2 separate regions of the Homo sapiens genome follow, and region 1 is linked to region 2. Evidence: fine-mapped expression QTL. A gene starts in region 2. The other region holds a variant in brackets. All regions are shown on one strand. Distances are between the middles of the regions.

Evidence for each region.
Region 1: its variant is fine-mapped to the expression of RYR3-DT in putamen (GTEx, PIP 0.99).

The regions. Positions count from the first base shown.
Region 1 is chr15:33,237,094-33,246,910 of GRCh38, forward strand. It overlaps the pseudogene TMCO5B. Among named protein-coding and RNA genes, the nearest start is that of FMN1, 47 kb to the left of the region's middle. RefSeq lists a silencer at 1,132-1,301. The variant G/C (reference allele first, on the strand shown) is at 4,683.
Region 2 is chr15:33,305,537-33,315,353 of GRCh38, forward strand. RYR3-DT (RYR3 divergent transcript) reads right to left here and starts at 5,123. Exons shown (of 3, transcript NR_120327.1): 1 at 5,042-5,123; 2 at 796-895. It overlaps RYR3 (ryanodine receptor 3), which reads left to right and starts at 5,431. Exons shown (of 104, transcript NM_001036.6): 1 at 5,431-5,560. The coding sequence starts at 5,510. RefSeq lists enhancers at 5,652-6,163, 6,164-6,673.

The sequences.
Region 1 (9,817 bases), 68 kb before region 2:
CTAGACTCTTACTAACATTCACAATGCTCAACATTTAAAATCCATAATTGCTAAACTTATAAAGAACCAGGAAAATGTGATTCATTTTTAAAAGAAGACAATCAATGAAAACTAAGCTGGATATAACCCTGATGTTGGATTCAAACTGCAGTTTGTGTCTTGGTGGCAGCTCAAGTTTCAGTTGTGGTCTTATGTCCTCAGCTGGGCTGCTCACACATTGCCCTGAGCATGCATGGTTTGGAAGTCCAGTCAGAGATTCAGGTATAGTTTAGACACAGATTTAGGAACTCCCCATGTCTGACTCTCTACTTTTTCCCCAGTATCTTTGGCTGCCTCAAACTCTTTATTCTCTATTTTGTTAGTCCAAAAAGACTATAGGTTTTCTCTGCTGGTGCATCTTACACACCCAGTTTGGTCTTTCTTCAGGCTAGAAACTATAAAAATAGGGGAAATAATGCCCATCATTCTCTTTTTCCAAGTGCCAGATCCCTTCCAGAATCTGCTTGCTTTTATTCACTCGCCAATACCTTCTGTTCATTGTTTGTTCATTTGTTTTATTTTGTTTTGTTATCCTAAGTTTCATTTTATGCAATAGGATTGAGTCCATTAATGGAAATGCCTGTAAATAATACCAGCAAATAATGCCTGCAAATGCTTGCAAATAATTCAATAAAGCAAGAAAAAGAAATAAAAAGATAAAGACTGAAAAGGAAAAAGTACAATTGTTATTATTTATAGTTGAGAAGCTAAAAGAAATTTTTAGAATAGGTGAATTTAGTGAGATTAATGATACAAGTTCAATATATAGAAACCAATTGTATTTCTATGCACTAACAGTAATCAATTAAAAAATCAAGGCTGGCATGTTGGCTCACACCTGCAATCCTAGCACTTTGGGAGGCCAAGGTGGGAGGATCGCTTAAGCCCAGGAGTTTGAGACCAGCCTGGGCAACATAGTGGGACCCTGTCTCTATTTTATTTTATTATTTTATTTTTATTTTTTGAGATGGAGTTTCGCTCTGTCACCCAGGCTGGAGTACAGTGGCATAACCTCCTCCTCCCGGGTTCAAGCAATTCTCCTGCCTCAGCCTCCCAAGTAGCTGGGACTACAGGCATGTGCCACCACACCTGGCTTTTTTATTTTTTTTATTTTTTTATTTTTAGTAGAGACAGAGTTTCACCATGTTAGTCAGGCTGGTCTCGAACTCCTGACCTCAGGTAATCCACCTGCCTCAGCTTCCCAAAGTGCTGGGATTCCAGGCATGAGCCACCACACCTGGCCACCGTCTCTATTTTATTTTTAATATTAATAAAAAAAGAAAATCAAATTAACACAGCATTCACAGTTGCATTAAAAATATTAAATACCTAGGAATAAATCTGATGGAAAGTGTATAAGAACACCACACAGAAAACTGTAAAACGTTATTTTGAGAAATTAAATATCTAAATAAACGAAGGGATAAAGATATCATGGTGTGTGAAACTATTGTTTATTTTTATTATTCTTTTTGAGATAGCATCTCACTCGGTGGTCCAGGCTGGAATACAGTGGTGCAATATATCTCACTTTTACCTCAACCTCCTGGGCTCAAACCATCCTCCTGCCTCAGCCTCCTGAGTAGCTAGGACTATAGGCACACACAACCATGCCCAGATAATTTGTTTTATTTTTTGTAGAGATAGAGTCTTGCTATGTTGCCCAGGCTAGTCTCGATCTCCTGGCCTCAATAGAACCTCCCCCGCCCCACAGTCTCCCAAAACACTGACATTACAGGCATGAGCCACAGCACCTGGCCATGGAAAATTATTGTTTAGATACTAATTATCCTCTCACTTTATCTATAGATTCCATGTAACTCCAATCAACATCTCAGCAAGGTTTTTTGTTTTTGTTTTGGTAGAAGTTGAAAAACCGATTTTAAAATTTATATAGAAATTCAAGGGGCCAAGAAAGCCAAGATAATCGTGCAGAATTTAAGCTACCATATCAATACTAATTATAAAGCTATAATAATTAGTGTAGTTTTGGCACAAGGATAGGAACAGAGACTAATTGTACAGAATAAAGCATCCAGAAACACTCACACATATATGGTCACCAGACATAAAATAAGACACCACTGCAAATGAATAGTATCTTCAATAAATTGTGCTGGATCAATTGGATATCCATATGGAAAAAAAACCCCACAAATTTTAATCTCTACCTCACACCACAGAAAAGAAAATAAATTCCAAAAGAATGTAAACCTGAGTAAAAGGTAAATGATAAAAAATTCTAGGGGAAACCACAGAGAGTAGTTTTATGACCTCTAAAAGGCAGAAAGCAAAAAAGAATGGATTGACACATTTCACAGATTAGATTTTTTTCTAAATTAATAACTATTGTTTATCCAAAATGTCATTAAGAAAGTAAAAAAGGAAAGCCTCAGAATAGACTATAATACACACATTTGACAAAGGATCTTATGAAAAAAATAAGGAACTCCTACAAATCAATTAGAAAAAGACTAACCATCTCACAGATGCAGGCGAAAGACATGTCACAAAAGAGGACATTCAAATTTCCAAACTGTGTGAAAAGCTGTAAGACATCATTATTAATCAGCAATAAAATGCACATAAAATATCATTATTGAGTAATAAAATGTTTTTTAAATCAAAATTGTATACATCACTACACCCTTCTGCCAGAATAGCTAAAATCATAAAGGCTATAAATACTGAGTGAAAGTAAGGATGAGGAATAGCTAGAACTCTTGTACATTTTTTATGGGAGGGGATATTGGTACAGGCACTTTGGAAAATTGTTCAGCTTATCTAGTAAACCAAAGATGTATATACTCTGTGACCTAGAAATTCTATTCCTTGGTATCTAACCCAAGAAAAATGAGAGGATACATCCATCAAAAGACATGCACAAGAATACTTGTAGCAGCTTTATTATAAATTTCCAAACTGGAAATAAGCAACATGTTCCTTAAGAGTAGCATAGATAAATTGTGCCATATTTCTATAATAGAATATAACAGCCATGAAAAAGAACAAATCATGCAGCAATGCGAGTGAGTCTTAGTGAAAGCCAGACACAATCAAGAACATACTAAATTTATATAAAGTTCAAGAATGCTTTAAAAAGAAAGAGATGCAAGTCAGGCTAATGGTTACTTTTCCAGGAGTATTGACTGGGAGGAGGGGACAGGGAGGTTTTCGGGAACTCAGAATGTTCCACAGCTTGATCTCAGTGGTGTTATCATGTATAAAAATTCACCAAGCTATATAAAATTTGTGCACTCTATGTACATTATATAATGCAATTGAAAAGTATAAATAATCAAAAGGAAAGTGTGACAAGTCCTGAGACATACAGTCTATGGAAAGAAAGTATAAAAGGGCATCACTGGGGCCTCTGGTCAGTCTGGTGGACCCACTGCATCCTGGGAAAGGGGACAGCACACACACATAAAGGAATATTTCTGGGCCCCTAGTCCTCTTTTTACTACGTTTCTTCCTCTCTGAACATAGCTCCAGATAATTTTCAGGAACTGCATGCCTCTGAGGACATGTGAAAAGAACATTAGGGCCGGGCACGGTGGCTCACGCCTGTAATCCCAGCACTTTGGGAGTCTGAGGCGGGTGGATCACCTGAGATCAGGAGTTCGAGACCAGCCTGGCTAACATGGTGAAAACCTGTCTCTACTAAAAATACAAAAATTAGCTGGGCGCAGTGGCACATGCCTGTAATCCCAGCTACTTGGGAGGCTGAGGCAGGAGGATCGCTTGAACCTGGGAGGTGGAGGTTGCAGTTAACTGAGATCAGACCATTCTACTCCAGCCTGGGCGACAAGAGTGAAACTCTGTCTCAAACAAACAACAACAATAACAACAACAAAGAGAAGAACATTAAAAAGAGATTTTTTTTTTTTGAGACAAAATCTCACTCTGTTGCCTAGGCTGGAGTGCAGTGGCCTGATCTTGGCTCACTGCAACTTCCACCTCCTGGGTTCAAGGGATTCTCATGCCTCAGCCTCCCAAGTAGCTAGGATTACAGGCGGCCGCCACCATGCCTTGCTCATTTTTGTTTTTTTTTAGTAGAGACGGGGTTTCACCATGTTGGCCAGGATGGTCTCGATCTCCTGACCTCAGGTGATCCACCCGCCTCGGCCTCTCAAAGTGCTGGGATTATAGGCATGAGCCACCGCGCCTGGCCAAAAAGAGGCTTTTAAAACACCAGTTGCTGAGGAAGGCAAGAGGAAAGCCTGAATGCTGTTGGTTTTCCAGTCTGAACCATGGAGCGGAGGCTGAAAGAGATGACTTGTTGGAGGCCATTTACACAGTGACACACACTGTGCTGAGAAGCACCCCGCCCTTCAAAGGCCGCCTGGACTGCCGGACTGCTACTGCAGTCTGTCAGGGAGGCCATTTTTCTAAGCTTACATTTGTTTTTCAAGAAGCAGCGTCTCCTTTTCCTCTTTCATCTTCCTCAGAACTTCCTGGTATTTCTTTCCATGAAGTTAAAAAATAAACAAAGTCATAAATGGAAAATTTCCATATCTCATCATGATGTCATTGATAAAAACATTCTGCTAATTATTTTCCAAACAATATACTCATCAGTATGCACACACCAGTGGGGGAGGGGTTCTAATAAAAAATTCAAAGATATTAGTGACCGGAAT[G/C]GATGTGTATGAACAAAAAGAGCTCCCTCCCATTCAGGTCCCTGCTTGTATTCAAATCCCAGCTCTGACGTTTACTAGCTGTGTTCCCTGTTACTAGCTGCATTCTAACTTCCTGAAACCTCATTGTCCCCTTGATCATAACTGTCACGCTCATAGAATTATTGAACAAATTGATTGAGAAAAATACTATAGGCTGAGTGCTTAGCACAGTACTTGGCACAAAGTAAATCCTTAACATACATCCGTCTTCTTGTTGCTGTTGTATACAGAGCATTTTCCCTAGTGACACATTCTAGCCTAATGAAAAACCAAGGAACCCATGGCCTTGGAGATATTCTGCCTCTACTCGGACTTTTCCTCCACATGGGTTGCACCTTTATGTAGTAGACCTGGTCCTTACAGAGGTCAGACACAGATTGGTAGTCACTCTCTATCTAAAAAGAAAGAAAATTAACAAACCTCATGAGTTAAATCAGAACCAAGCCCAGTCTCCTCCCTGGGGCCCTACCTGGTGCACTGGCACTTGGCTGGTTACCTAGCAACTCCTGACTTGAAGGAAAAACAGTCACATCACAAAGAGGTGATCTCATCATTAGGCACAGGGTCTGGTTTTAAGCAAAGGAAATATTTTGCCCAAGTTGTCATCTGCCTCTCATGTGAAATACCAGGGGACGTGTCAAGGCACTTTGGTTTGGAATTCAACAATGGTATTTGACACAGAGATGTAAGAAATGGTAAAAGCAGTATTTTTAATAGAAGTTTTCTTTCCCTTCAGCTGCATAAGAATGCATAAGAATCAGAAATTCATTTGCAAGATGTTTTTGTACCTCCCCCTCCTATGCCTCAAGCAGATCTGTTTCTAAGACCCTTGGGATTCTCTCCCATTCTATCCCGGGCAGACCCTCAGTGGAAGAGACATTGCCTCTGCCTTGGCCAGTTCCTCCTCTTGCTTTGCACAGGACTCTGTTGACTTCTGTAGTCTTGCCTGTGGAAGACAATGAGTGACGGCAGAAAGTTACTAGCATTCTTTTATGGAAGGGAAGTGGGTAATTACCATATCCAGACCAGCAGAGGGCATGACACTAATGGCTATCATGTTGAAGACATCTGATAACAATTTAGGGTGGGCACTTGTTATTACCCCCTCCCCTCTCCATTTTACAAATGAGGAAACAAAGGCGCAGAGAAGTTGAGTATGTAACTTGTTAAAGTTTAAAGTGGCAGAGCTGACATTTACGCCTCAGTAGGCCAGTGCCCATTCAGTGAACCCAGCCATCCTCCTTCCTCCAGGCCTACTGACCAAAGCTCACAAGCCTCTTCCTCCCACTCATATTTCATAGGGTGCACTGGCATGTCCCCTGAATCACACAGAAAATAAAAGAGAAACCTGGGCCAGGCGTAGTGACTCACGCCTGTAATCCCAGCACTTTGGGAGACCAAGGCAGGCAGATTGCTTGAGGTCAGGAATTCAAGACCACCCTGGCCAACATGGTGAACTCTGGCCAATGTGGTAAAACCCCATCTCTACTGAAAATACAAAAATTAGCCAGGTATCGTGGCGTGTGCCTGTAGTCCCAGCTACTCAGGAGGCTGAGGCAGGAGAACTGCTTTAACTCCCGGGAAGCAGAGGTTGCAGTGAGCCGAGATCTTACCACTGCACTCCAGCCTGGGTGATGGAGAGAGACTCCATCTCAAAAAAAAAAAAAAAAAAAAAAGAGAGAGAGAAACCTGGTTTCTCTTTTTCTGAGAAATACATAAGACAGTGGAGCTCTTGTATAGTGGGCTCAGTTAAATTGCCACACTCACCACATAAGTATGCAGAGAGCTTCCTAATAGGGGTTTTCCCCACTATTGGGTGTCCAGTGTAGTCATTCATTCAATATATATTTATTGGGCATCTACTATGTGCCAGGCACATAGTTCTAGGCCCTGGGGAAACAAATGAACAACATAGGCAACAATTCATGTTCTCAATGAGTTTATCTTCTAGCAGAGGAAAAAGATAACAAAATAAATTTTAAAAAAACTTCTTTGGCCTTTGAGCCATGGGTTGGAAATCAGAAGATCATGACACATCCCTGTATGACTATGGGAGTCAATATTTTCTTCCTATTGAATATCTTATTTGTGTGTCCTCACTTAAATAATAAGCTTCTGGAGGGCAGGTCCCAATGGGCATTCAGAACATGTGTTTTATCGACTGATGGAAGATGGGGACTCTGGAGCAGTTCCCTCCACTTTGATCCACTGCAGTCATCTCTGCTCCTAGTGTGACTAGTGATGTCATAAATGCCCCCACAGGCCATGGGATTACATGCAGAGAATAAAGGACAGTGACTCATCTCTGATAAGTACACAGACATAACCAGTACATACCCTAGGGTAGTCCTTGAGAGCAATTTCTCACAGGACCTAGAATTGACACATCTCCCAGAAAAATCTGTTTGTTTTTTCTACTCACCTTCATTTCCTCCAGGATCTGCTTTGTGGTTTCTTCTTCAAGGCCAATATTTGTAAATAACCCTGAAATCTAAAATACCATTCAAAAAATCATGAACTAAGTAAGGCACACAGACATGAAAACCTGGGCCAGTGGCAGACTGGGGTCCCAGGCTGCAGATGGTGGTTACTAATTCGGGCCCTGGATAGAAGCTTGGAAGAAAAGCATCTCCTTCTCTCTGTGGAGGCTGCCTGACTCCATGTGGGCTAGACAGACTTTTCTGTTCCCACAGCCCATGGAAGAAAGTGCACAGTGAGGAGGGGAGGACAATGAGAAAGGGAAGAGAGAATGGGGCAGAGTGGGAGGAGGGATAAGTCTTTTCCCCCTCTAAAGCCCTTTAGCCCTCTCACCACAATCTGTAATGCCCAGAGAACAATTGGCAGCAGCAGTGCAGAGGGAGCATGCAAACTTTGCCAGTTGCTCCTTCTTCTCCAGTCTCTGTGATTACAGAGTTCTGGAAGATAACTCTTATTGATAAGATTCCTAAGAAACGAGGCTTGTTTCCAGGGCATGCTTTGCTATGTGGAGAACAGCCTTTCCGTTAACGTTTATGTATATCTTTTCTCATTCTGAATGTGCCTAGGACCCCTCCTGCATACTCCCAGCCCAGCCCACCAGCCTTTCTCTTGTGAAGACACAATGTTCTTAGGGACTCGGGGACCCTAAAAAACCCAGGGCTCCCCTTACCTTTTTCTGAACCTCCACCACATTCCTGCTTAGGATTGCGTTACTTTTCTCCTGTGGGGAAAAAGAAAGTCAAGGGAAGAAAGTTGCTCTGCCGTCATCTCTCCCCCTTCATCAGGCCACTGGAATAATATCTGGGGATTAGTCTATCAAGTCGGAAAAGTGCACTCTGGCTCACACAGCAGATCTGGGAAAAAAGCCTCTTCGGCCCCCATGCCCAGTGCTTCATTCCCAGAACACTCTCTTAAACAGCCATGATTTGAGACACAGAAGCAATGAACATGGGATGAATTCCTGGGAAGGAGAGCAGCAGAATGCAAACAAAATGCATCCAATGGTCCTTTTCTAGACACCTCCTTACCAGCTTTGCTGTCTCTAATTCCAGCTCCCTCAGGGATTCCTCCTGTTCATCTATGACATAGTTCAACTCCTCCTCCTCTTTGGCTTCTTCTAGTGACAAGGCCAGCTTTCTTTCCAGGCTGAGAAATATAAAGTCACCCAGGTGTGGCTCAGCCCCTAAGAAAGCTGCCAGGGCCCCAATTTGAGAAGCTACTTTCGAAGTCTCAGGAAGTCAGAGTAACTACCAAATGCAATGGCGATAAAATGTCAACCTAATGTGAAAATTTAATGCAAAAATCTATACCTGAAGTATTTTGAGGGCACTGTAGTTCATACTTTAGGATTTAAATAAAACGTCAAGATTCACCATCAAATAAGTGAAACTTTCTTCCACCTGTATCCCAAAGGACCTGCAGGGGCGGGGAGGCCCTTCCCCCACCAACCACAAAGCCTTACCTTGAAATAGTTTCTTCTTTCTCTTTAATCTTTCTAAGGAGAACCTGATTCTCCATATCCAGTTTCTGCAGGTCCTTTTCAAGGTCTGAATTCAGGCAGTCAAGGTTCTGTTTTACAGCTTCTAATGCTGGTAATTATATCGTCTGCTACCTACAGAAAATCATCTTTATCACCAACCTCAGGACAGGAAAACATAGGAGCCCTAAGAAGACGTTCCCCTATAGTTTCACTCATTCTCTTATCTTCTGTTGTTAATAAGCTTAACCAGCCTTATTTTGTTTTCCATGATAAATTGATTTCTACACTATTTTGCATAAAGTAAATTCCTGGAGTGGAGCCACATTTTAATTTTAAATACTATAAATGGAACCCACTGAAACAAAGCTTTCATGAAGCAAAAAAAATATTTTTTCTATGAATACTTTAACACACTTGTTTTAAAATATCTTAGATGAAGTATGCAGAATCCAAGTGATACCTCTAAAGCATTTAGAGACCTGCAAGGGAAAGGCTTCTCCTTTTGCTATCTTCTAACCTAGTCAGGCAGGGACATGGGCTGAGTAGAGGCCAAAAGGGTGATGAATCTTTTTCCTGCCAGACTGATTAGCTGTTTGAGACACTAGAGATCTTTGAAAATCCCATCATTATTCTGATGAAGAACAGAGAACTGAAGCCAAAGTTTCTTATCCCTAGGAAGCCTCCTCAGACTTGAGGAGATAAATTCTCACACAGTGGAGTTCTTCCTTACTGGATTGCTGGAGACTCTTCCCGTGGAGCTTCCTCTACTGAACTCTTTTATTATTCCCATACTTACACATCATCCAGTGGATTCTGTCCAACGTCTTCCATCATAGCGTCCCTAAAATGTGAACACAAACATCCGTTATGGAAAAGCCCCTAACAGCCAATGCAGTAATTGCCCCAGGAATGAGCAGGTAAAAGGTAGACCTTGCGTTCAGGCCACACAGAGCCAAGAAGAAACGTAAGCCTCCTACACTCTCATGCTTCCCATGATCAATTGCAGTATTTTTTACAAGCTAAATTTCAGTAAACCAGATCATATTTTAATTTAAAAATCTCATAAATGAAACCCACTGGAGCACAGGAATCTTTTTGTTTTCAAAATTTTCCACACTTTGGCTCCACTTTCCTTTTC
Region 2 (9,817 bases):
TCAAATGTCTAATTTCTAATGTCTAATACACAATGATTACAGTATAAATTTACTGTTAAACAGAGGCTGACCTGCAGGGAAATGCAAATAAACTACTATAATGCTGGTGGCTTAATCTATTGCTTTAACAACCCTTTCCAACTGGAGACTCCTTGAAGATGAATTAGTTCAATGGACGGCACCTTGCAAAAGATCTGCCTCCTAGGCTTCTGCAAGTGTGCTCAGCTTGCCTCTATCTCTGCTGTGCCTCAGAGGCTGCCCCAGCCCCGCTGGGAGAAAGCCCCCTCTTTATTTAGTTTCCGGAGCCTTTCGCCAGAATGGCATATTAACTTTTGCCTTATAATGTAATCCTCCAATCTTAAAACATCAAAAGGAAAAAGAAGGAGAAGGTGAAAAAGAAGGAGTAGAGGAAGGAGAAAAAGAGGAAAAAGAAAGGAGGAAGAAGAAGAGGAAGAGGCGGAGAAGGAGGAGGCAGTGGCAACGACGACATTTCCATGTGTTCAGCTTCAGGAAGGTATCAGTAAGTGGATCCTTGCCTGTGTTAAGCAGTTGCGATGTCCGTGGCTTTTATAAACAAGATAATGCACATATCATCAGAAAAAGAAAGATTTTTTTTTGTACCTGTTTCCTGTCTATTTTAGAAAGGAATCTGAATCAAGGATTTTTGGTATGGCTTCCAAGTTTTAGGACAAAGCTATATTAGTATACCAATTTAGTAGCTTATTATAAAGATCTTGGAAACAATTGATAATTTTTTCTTAACATTAAAAAATGACTTTTGTAAAATGTGTATACCATCGTTCCTACTGACACCAAATTAAAAGCAGGTGTAGTCTCAGGAGCTCTTTCTGTTCACAGGCTTCCCTGGTGAAAATAACTTCTTGCCTTGGAACACCTGAACAAAAAGCAGAGAAAAGTGTTTTTTTTTCTTTTTGCTAATGAAAAACAAATAAATCTTCAGTCAGTATATAATAGTACTTGTGTATATGGTGAGATATTTTAAAAGATGGTAGCTAGCAGAGTCAGTTCCCTCAACTCTACAGTTCTTTGCATCATTCCCTTTTATATGTTCCTTAGGCAAATCCTGAGTCAATGCAGACCAAAGCCATGAGCGCAATTAATGGAAGAAATGCATTTTCAGCAAATGGATGGCTGCTATAGTTAGGAAGTGAGGCTGAAATGGATATTGGAGAAAGATTTAGTGTTGTGTAGAATTTAATATATTGCTAGTAACATGGGTGAAGGCTATCTTTATCAAGTGTGACCTCTTAGCTTCTGTGTCTCCAAGCATGGGAAGTCCTAGCTTGTTAAAGCTTAAGCCTGCCTCCCCTATGGCTAAATGAACAAAGATGTATGAGACTTTTAACCAGAATGAAGGGGCCAGAGTCTTTGGACAGCAAATGGAGTGAAGCTAACTGGCCCTCCTAGAACTGAATCCATATCCTTGGCCTCATTGAGACCACTTGGGCAACTGGCTACCATGAATAATACAACATAGCAAATGAGATACTGACTTATATGAGTGTGGACATTTTCATTAGCATTTTAAAACTATAGCAATATTACTGTTAAAACACAAATAAGAGGCCCTCTTATGTGAGAAAATCCTTAGGACCAATACTTTGAGAACCTCCAGAGGAGAAAATAAATACATGAATTTTATTTCAATAGTCAATATTGAATAACAATATTTCAATGTCAGGCCTTTAAAATTGTATATGTAAAAGGTATAAAAGTGCTATAATGATAAAAATGAAAAATTTCTGATTTGGCCCCCACTACAGGCTCTCCACCTGCTGTTGATATTGGCTGCAGAGTGCCCCAACATTCAAATACAGCAGGCTTTGAGGTCTGACTTTGAACCATGCCAGTATCCCAAAGGTATTTGATTTCCCTGTTGTGTGCACCTAATTGAAGTCATAATAATGGCTGATAGCTTTCTCCAGAGGTTTAGAAACCTGGGAGGCTTTGGGTTTTTCTTTCAAAATGTAGTAGCTACAGTACCCTCTAAGACCTAAGGTCCAAGTCCTCCGGCTCTCTACTAAGAGTAACTGGTCTTGAGAGAGACTCAGTTTAAAATATAGGCTGTGTGGAAGCAAACCCAATGTGTATGGGGTATGGGGGCATGGAGGTGGTGTATGAACCTGATGTTTTCCACTTTGCTGTTCTAGAAGCAAGGCACTATAGTGGAGAAAGTACTGAAAAGTATTGAGATTGTTTTACTCCAAGTAAGAGGAGATTGTGTGACTCCTTTTACTAGATGTATGAATTTAGACAAGTAACTTACTATTAGTTTATTCTCTCCCGGTCTTAATGGGTGAACTAATAGCAAAACAAGTATCAAAGCACAGTGTCTGAACTACTATTTATCTGTACCTGTATGACTACAGCATCATTATTGGTGCATCTTTGGGAAATCTTAGAGAATGGAAGAAGTACCAATAGATTTCAAATAGAAGTAAATGTCCACCTTCCCCAGTTTACAGTCTGAAACAACAGCCTGAGACTCTTTTATACGCTGAGCTCCAGAACAATCTTAGATTTTGATAATTAAACAGCTTACTTTTGGGAACTCTAAAGGAACACAAAGACCATCAGGAATCCAAGTGGATGCACCAATGGTGTTACAGAACTCCATTCTTACTTCTTTTGTGGTAGGGTTATTTGACTGATGCGGGAGGTGGTGTCCCAGATTACATATCTGTATTTCAGTAAAGTATGTAAGAAAGGCATTTATAGTAGCCCTATGAACAAGAAGAAATTTGGGCTGCAAAATAATATATTTATGTAGGTTATTTTTTAATTATAACTTTTATTTTAGGTTCAAGGGTACATATGTAGGTTTGTTACATAAGTAAACTGCATGTCATGGAGGTTTGGTGTACAGATTATTTTGTCACGCAGGTAATAAGCATAGTACTCAATAGGTATTATTTTTCTGACTTAGGTAAGTTCTTGATCATTAAATAAGCATAATCAAAAGTATGAAAGTTAATCCAACAGGGCCTCTATTAGTATTCTGAAGGTATGCCATATTAAGCATAATCAAAAGTATGAAAGTTAATCCAAGAGGGCCTCTATTAGTATTCTGAAGGTATGCCATATCACAGGTTAGTAATAATTAGCACCTTGCCTGGCATACTCTAGCTTTAAAAATACCTTAAAGGTTCACATATAGAGACATCAATACATGATTGGGTATTACAATTGGAAGGAACACACACACACCCACCCACACACACACACACACACACACATATTTTTGAGACAGAGTCTCGCTCTTGTTGCCCAGGCTGGAGTGCAATGGCATGATCTCGGCTCACGGCAATCTTCACCTCCCGGGTTCAAGCGATTCTCCTGCCTCAGCCTCCCAAGTAGCTGGGATTACAGGCATGCACCACCACGACCGGCTAATTTTGTATTTTTTTTTTTTTTTTAGTAGAAATGGGGTTTCTCCATGTTGGTCAGGCTGGTCTCGAACTGCCGACCTCAGGTGATCCACCCGCCTTGGCCTCCCAAAGTGTTGAGATTATAGGCGTGAGCCACCGTGCCCACAGGTACTCAAGCACTTGCATGTGATCAAGATGGAGAAGAGCTGACTTTTGCAGTTCACGTGGGAGGAAAAAAGTAAATCTAGAAATTCTAGTTAACTCCAAACACAGTGAGTGTCATTAGTGTTTCTCCAGAAGCCAATCCAATATTAGGCTGCACATAAAGACTGTCCAAAACAAGGACGGAGAGCACAACAATTCAGGAAGAAGACCACCTGGAATGCTCATATGGCCATCAAAGATGACATAGGCTCTGGAAACTATACTACAGGGAAAGTTGGGGCTAAGAAGAACCTTGAGCCAGGAGAAGAAAAGAGTGGATGGTGGGCCATAGAGGCAAGCATGGCAGATGCCTTCTAAGAGGTGAAGGGCCACAATGTACAGATGGTTTGACTTATTCTAGGCGGGTTTCAGAAGAGGCACAAGGCCCAAGCTGAAGCCTAGAAGGTAGCAGTTTGAGTACAATACAAGAAAAAAACATTTTTCTTTGCATTTCTGATGTTCATCAGAACATATGGGACGGAAGCTCAGGAAAGAGATCTTAAGGTAGCATCAAGAGATAGATGTCGTCCACAAGGAGGCGGTATATGAAGCTGTGAAATGGCTTGGGGTTTCCAGTGTCTTCCACCATCATCAGCCCAGAATTACCACCTTCCCAGTTGCACTTCCTCCTAAATCTACATCTCTGGTGCCTTTTGCCTTGAACAGTCTCTTGCCTTGGAGCTTCTCGGCCATCAAACAGAAGGGGGCACCCTGCACCGTCAGTCAAGGCAAGGACCAATCTGGCAATCCCCAACCATGGAAAAGGACCTAAGGCTGGGTGGGATGTAGGAGCCTTCCAGGACCTGGAAGGGAGCCTCCTGTAACTACTCTCTACTCCCTTTAGAGTCCACAGGGCTGGAACTCTAAATGCAGAATAAGGTTAGGGGTGGGCAGAGAGGAAGGGTTGTGATGCCACCTGACTTCCAAATTGAGGGTGGCACAGGATCCCCCAGAAGCTCCCTGGGGTACAGAAGTCACAGCAACCCTGGACAATCCAGGGGTTTGGTAAAGTGTACTTACCAATTTTGAAGAGGGGAAGGGGTTCTCTTAAGGTGTAGAAAGGACTATCCAGGGAGTTGCAAACTTTGTTGTAAGTGGACAATCACCCTCGCTCCTCACTGCACCGTCTTCTCCTTGCCCAACAATGCACGCGGGTCCTAGCAAGGTATTCGAGTCCAGATCTCTCTCTCTCTCTCTCTCTCTCTCTCTGTCTCTGTCTCTCTCTCTTTCCTCTCTCTGTCTCTCTGTCTCTGTCTCTCTCTTTCCTCTCTCTCTCTCTCTGTCTCTGTCTCTCTCTTTCCTCTCTCTCTCTCTCTATCTCTGTCACACACACACACACACACACACACACACACACACACACACAGGCAAAGTGGGCAAAGCGGGCAAAGCGAGCAAAGCGAGAGGGTTGGTACCCAGTCTGGGCGCGCTGGAGCTAAGCAACTGGCCTTTGTTTGTGAATTGGAGCAGTTTAGGGGACATCCTCCGGTCGCCGCGGGGCGCGCGCCTCCGCTGAGTGTGCGGTGCGGTACCCAGCGGTGCGGGGGAGGCTCCACCGCGCCAGCCCAGGGCCCCCGCACCGCCCCCGCCAGCTCGACGCGCCCAGCGTTGCGCTCTCCACGGAGCGGGCGGCCGCAGCGCACTTGGCTGGGGCGAGAGGCGAGAGGGGTGGGCGGACTGCTTGGTTGGCGTTGGCGCTCTGCAGTGCAGTGGAGTGTTAGCCCAGCTCCCTATATGGTCGGGGATTAGCTTGGCGCTGCTGAGGCTGAGGCTGAGCCAGGAGCTGGAGGAGGAGGTGGAGGACGAGGACGAAAAGGAGGAGGAGAAAGAGCGCAGCAGCAGTCAGCGCACGCCGAGCGGCTGCCGGGGGAAGCAGAGGCGCCGGAGGCTGGGGCACCGCCGACGCCTCGGGAGCCATGGCCGAAGGGGGAGAAGGAGGCGAGGACGAGATCCAGTTTCTGAGGACTGTGAGTCTCCGCGGCGGGGGCGAGGCCGTGGGCAGGTGGGGAGGAGCGCGGAGCGCGGCGAGGAGGGGCTGGCTGCGCTGCGCCGCGGTGCCGGGTGCCCGGTGCCGGGCGCTTTCTCCGCACCCGCGGGCTGCAGAGGCGGACCGGCCACCTACCCGCGGGGCCGCGAGGGGCTGCGTGGGAAGGGGCACCATCTCCTGCCTCTCCCTTGTTCCCCTACCGCCACCCCTGCCCCAGGCCCTCCACCTAGGACCGCTCGCTCTCCAGGCAACTTGCTACTTGGTCTGAAACCCTTGATGCCCAAACTTCAGCCGGGGTTTGTTCGCGGTTGTCCTGACCCATAAGATCGGCGTTGGAAGCCCTCGCCCCGGGGTCGGCCCTCTGACACCTCCATACTCCACCCCAGCCCCATTCCTCTTCCAGGGCGCCCCCACGCACAGGGGAACCTCCGGGAAGGAGCCAGCGGGGCAGGGGGGAGTGTGGGGAGCCGGGTCGGAGAAGCGGGCGCAGGCGCTTGGTCCTAGCCCTGGGATCGCTCGGAGGGGAATTCACCCAGCGCTGCCCCTCTCGTGTTAAGCCCCACGCCGGCAACTGCTGCTGGAGCCTGACTTGACTGACTGCCTGTCGTGTGTTCGAGAGCTGTGGCTTCTGCTCCTGGCTCCCGCGAGCCCCGCAGGACAGGGAAACCCCAGTCAGTGGCTCCGCGTCACTCAGGTCCCCTCCTTGACACCTGAGGGCGCTGCTCCGTCCCAGATTTGGGGGTGAGGGGGCGAAGTCTGTTGCAGCCACACCAGCCTTGCCCTGTAGGAGATAATACAAAGACTTTCAGGGTGGACGGCCACCCGGAGGGGTGGGGGCATTGGGGATGCATCCTAGCGCTGACTTCAGCCAAGTGACCTTGAGCAAGTCGCATAATCCGCCCTACTCAGCCTCAGTTTCCTCATGTGTAAAATAAAATGTAACCAGCGTTTCAGGGTGATAAGGATTAAACGTTATCGTGAATGTCATAATGTTTTGTAAACGGCAAATCGCTCTGTAAATCTTAGGTAATTTTATATGCGCTGCCTTGCTCTCAGGAATTAGAATGAAATTCTTTCTTTCCCTCTCTCACTTCCCTTTAAGGGTGCCCCCTTCTCCATGACCTGGTCTTCGAAGATCACAACTTACCTCTTGTCCATCTTTTGAACCACTCTCCTCCTGTTGAAGCGCTTCCTTCCAATTTACTTCAGTTTCTCTTCCAAACATGGTTCTTTTGTCAAAGCTGGGACTTGGGTCTTATTTGGGGGGGGTATGGAAGTACCTATCGCCCTGCTGGTACTACTGAGAGGCTAGAGTATTCATCTCTTCATCCTTCGTCTGACCTGCAGACCCAGACTCCATTCTCATCTCTCACACTGCACACAAGATGGCCCCACAGTTGCAACTCATGACAACCCTATTGTTATAAAGCTGCCTGCTCCCCTCAAAGCTCCATCAAATCCTTTGGTTGTCCCTCTGACAGGTGTCTTTAGTAGTGGATGGGTGGCAGCTCAGGTTTTTTCTGCCTTGTGTCCTCCATGATCAGTCATTTCTTCTCCTTATTATTAATGATCTTCTAGGCGTTATTGCTTGAAAAAATTATCTTCAGACAGGGTCAGTGTTGAATAGATGTCCCAGGGAGTTGAGGCTTAGGAAGGTGGTAGTTGTTGTGAGATCCTTATGCTTTTCTCTTGGCTTCTGAGCCATCTTCCCTGACTTTTCCTCTCCATCTGGCATTGTAAGTGTTTTTTGTTTTTGTTTGTTTTTGGTACACCTGTAGCCAAGGTTTACTATAGTAGTGGTTCTTAAGTTTTGTGTCCTGGGCTTCCTGCCCTAGAGATCAGAGCTGGCAGACCTCTTTTAAAGTACACCCATGACAGCCTGTGGGGTTCAAGGACCCAGGTTCAGAGCCCCTGTTGCAGAGAACTGCATACCGGTTATGGCTTAGAGCGAGTGATGGTGGTAACCATGGGGGCAGTGACTCCAAATGTGGCGTTATTGGTTCTTTTCCTTCTAGTTATCACCTTATGTATTTTTTAAGGTGTGTTCCTCATTTCTTCACCCTATGAGGCACCTTAACATCTTTGTTTTTAGCTCACTGGGAAGGAAATAGGTGATGAAACTGAAGCACAGGAAATCGAGTGACTTGAACATAGCTGTTGACAAGTTATTGGTAATTTTCATTATACAATGTTCAATTACATTCCCGCTAGAGCCTGGCATTGAGCGTTACGCCAGATGTTATATATAGTCTTAAGAATATACCTAAGAACATAAGAGGAGTACTGCAGCTTTCTGAGCTTGGCATCCTCCTTCTTCATCTGTGAATTCGACAAAATGATTTTTTGGAATCCAATAGCCATAAGCTTTTGATCTCTGCACAAAATTTTGACTTTAGGGTAGTTGGGAACACCAGGCTTGTGCTAGCAGTGGGATTTTTCTCTCCTCTGGGTATGTCTGGGTTAGGGAAGCTATTTCACTTTGAACTCACTCAGTTACCTTTGCCTTAGGCTTTCTTTCTCCTCCCCAGACAACACCTTTAAAAGCATTTTGGCAGTGTATTAGTCATATATAATGCTTCCTCACATCGACATGGTCCTGGATGAGAAGGTGACTCATACTGGACCATGGAATAGAATCATATCTTTGTAACCATGAACTTTAAAGGATTGCCATCCCAGAGAGCAGAAGCTTTTAACCTATTTACAAAAAAAGACCATACAATAGCATTATGCCAAGGATCCTAATCAAATTGTTAGTGGTTGTAGTGTCAGGTTTGTTATAATAGTGCCAAAAATGAAAGCAGCTAGAACTATTGATAGTGTGAAATGAGCCAGAATTACTGCAGTAACCACTGTAGGTGTGTGTGGTGTGGCTTTAGACACTTATTTGTGGTAGTGTTTATTTTGGTTATGTCCTCTGATACATTTGGAAGCCCACCCTCTCCTAAGTAGGGAACAAGACCTAAACAAGGGCTTTGGAAGCTTAAACACATGTGAACTAAATGCTACTGTACCCCAAGCCTTAAGGAGGCAGTCTAAAACTATATACCCTCTTCTGGCCTTCTGAAATCACTGACAGTCATGTATGCCAGTTAGAATCAGGCAGATAGACAGAATCTTTAAGGCTAAAATTTTCCCTCCCACTGCTGTTGGCAGTGGCATCCTCCTCTCTTCCGATTGCTCTTGCTGACGTAGCCAGTGTCATTGACGTGGCTCTGAAGCTGCTCAGAAGCAGATAAACCTGCCAGCCGCTGATCTGAAAGCAAGAAGTTATGGTGAGAAGAGTGGCAATTACCCCATCTTCAGACAGTCGGTGGAGCAGCTGGCACCACATTCTGCTTTGAGAGTGCTAGGAGAAAACTTTTCTCTCCTACTTTTTCCTTTAGACTACAGTATCCATTTAAAAAACACAAAACGAAACAAAACTCTAATCCTTAGCTTATTGTTTTTAAAATATCACAGTCTTCTCCTTGCCAACTGCCTTTCCACCACAATGTTAATTGAAACAGAACTCAGAGCCAGGCGCGGTGGCTCACGCCTGTAATCCCAGCACTTTGGGAGGCCGAGGCGGGTGGATCACGAGGTCAGGAGATCGAGACCATCCTGGCTAACACGGTGAAACCCCGTCTCTACTAAAAATACAAAAAATTAGCCGGGCGTGGTGGTGGGTGCCTGTAGTCCCAGCTGCTCGGGAGGCAGAGGCGGGAGAACGGCGTGAGCCCGGGAGGCGGAGCCTGCAGTGAGCCGAGATTGCGCCACTGGACTCTAGCCTGGGCGGCAGAGCAAGACTCAGTCTCAAAGAAAACAAACAACAAAAAAAAAAACCAAAAAAAAACAACAACAACAAAAAACGGAACTCAGAGTGAGATAGACATTTGTTTGCATTAGTTTCAATTAAAGGTTGGTCATAGACAGCCTAATTTAGACCTCCCCATAGAAAGTTGTCCTCCTTCATCTAAATTTGCAGCTCTCGAGGGATGAGAAAAGGCACTTGGGCTGAAAATCAAGGATTGGTCCCTTGTCTTGGGTTCCTGCCTACAGGGTGCCCAGGACAAATTCCTGAATTTGAGCTGCAGCGCTCACGTGAGCTCATGTCTCTCGTCCCTCCCCAGAGCGCGCTGTCTTGTGTTGGAATGACAGTGAACTTGTACCTGGTGGTTTATGGATGCCTGCTTTCTTCTCTCTGCGGCAGGGCCCATTTACATAACAGCTGCATGAAGCCTGTGTTTTGGTAGAT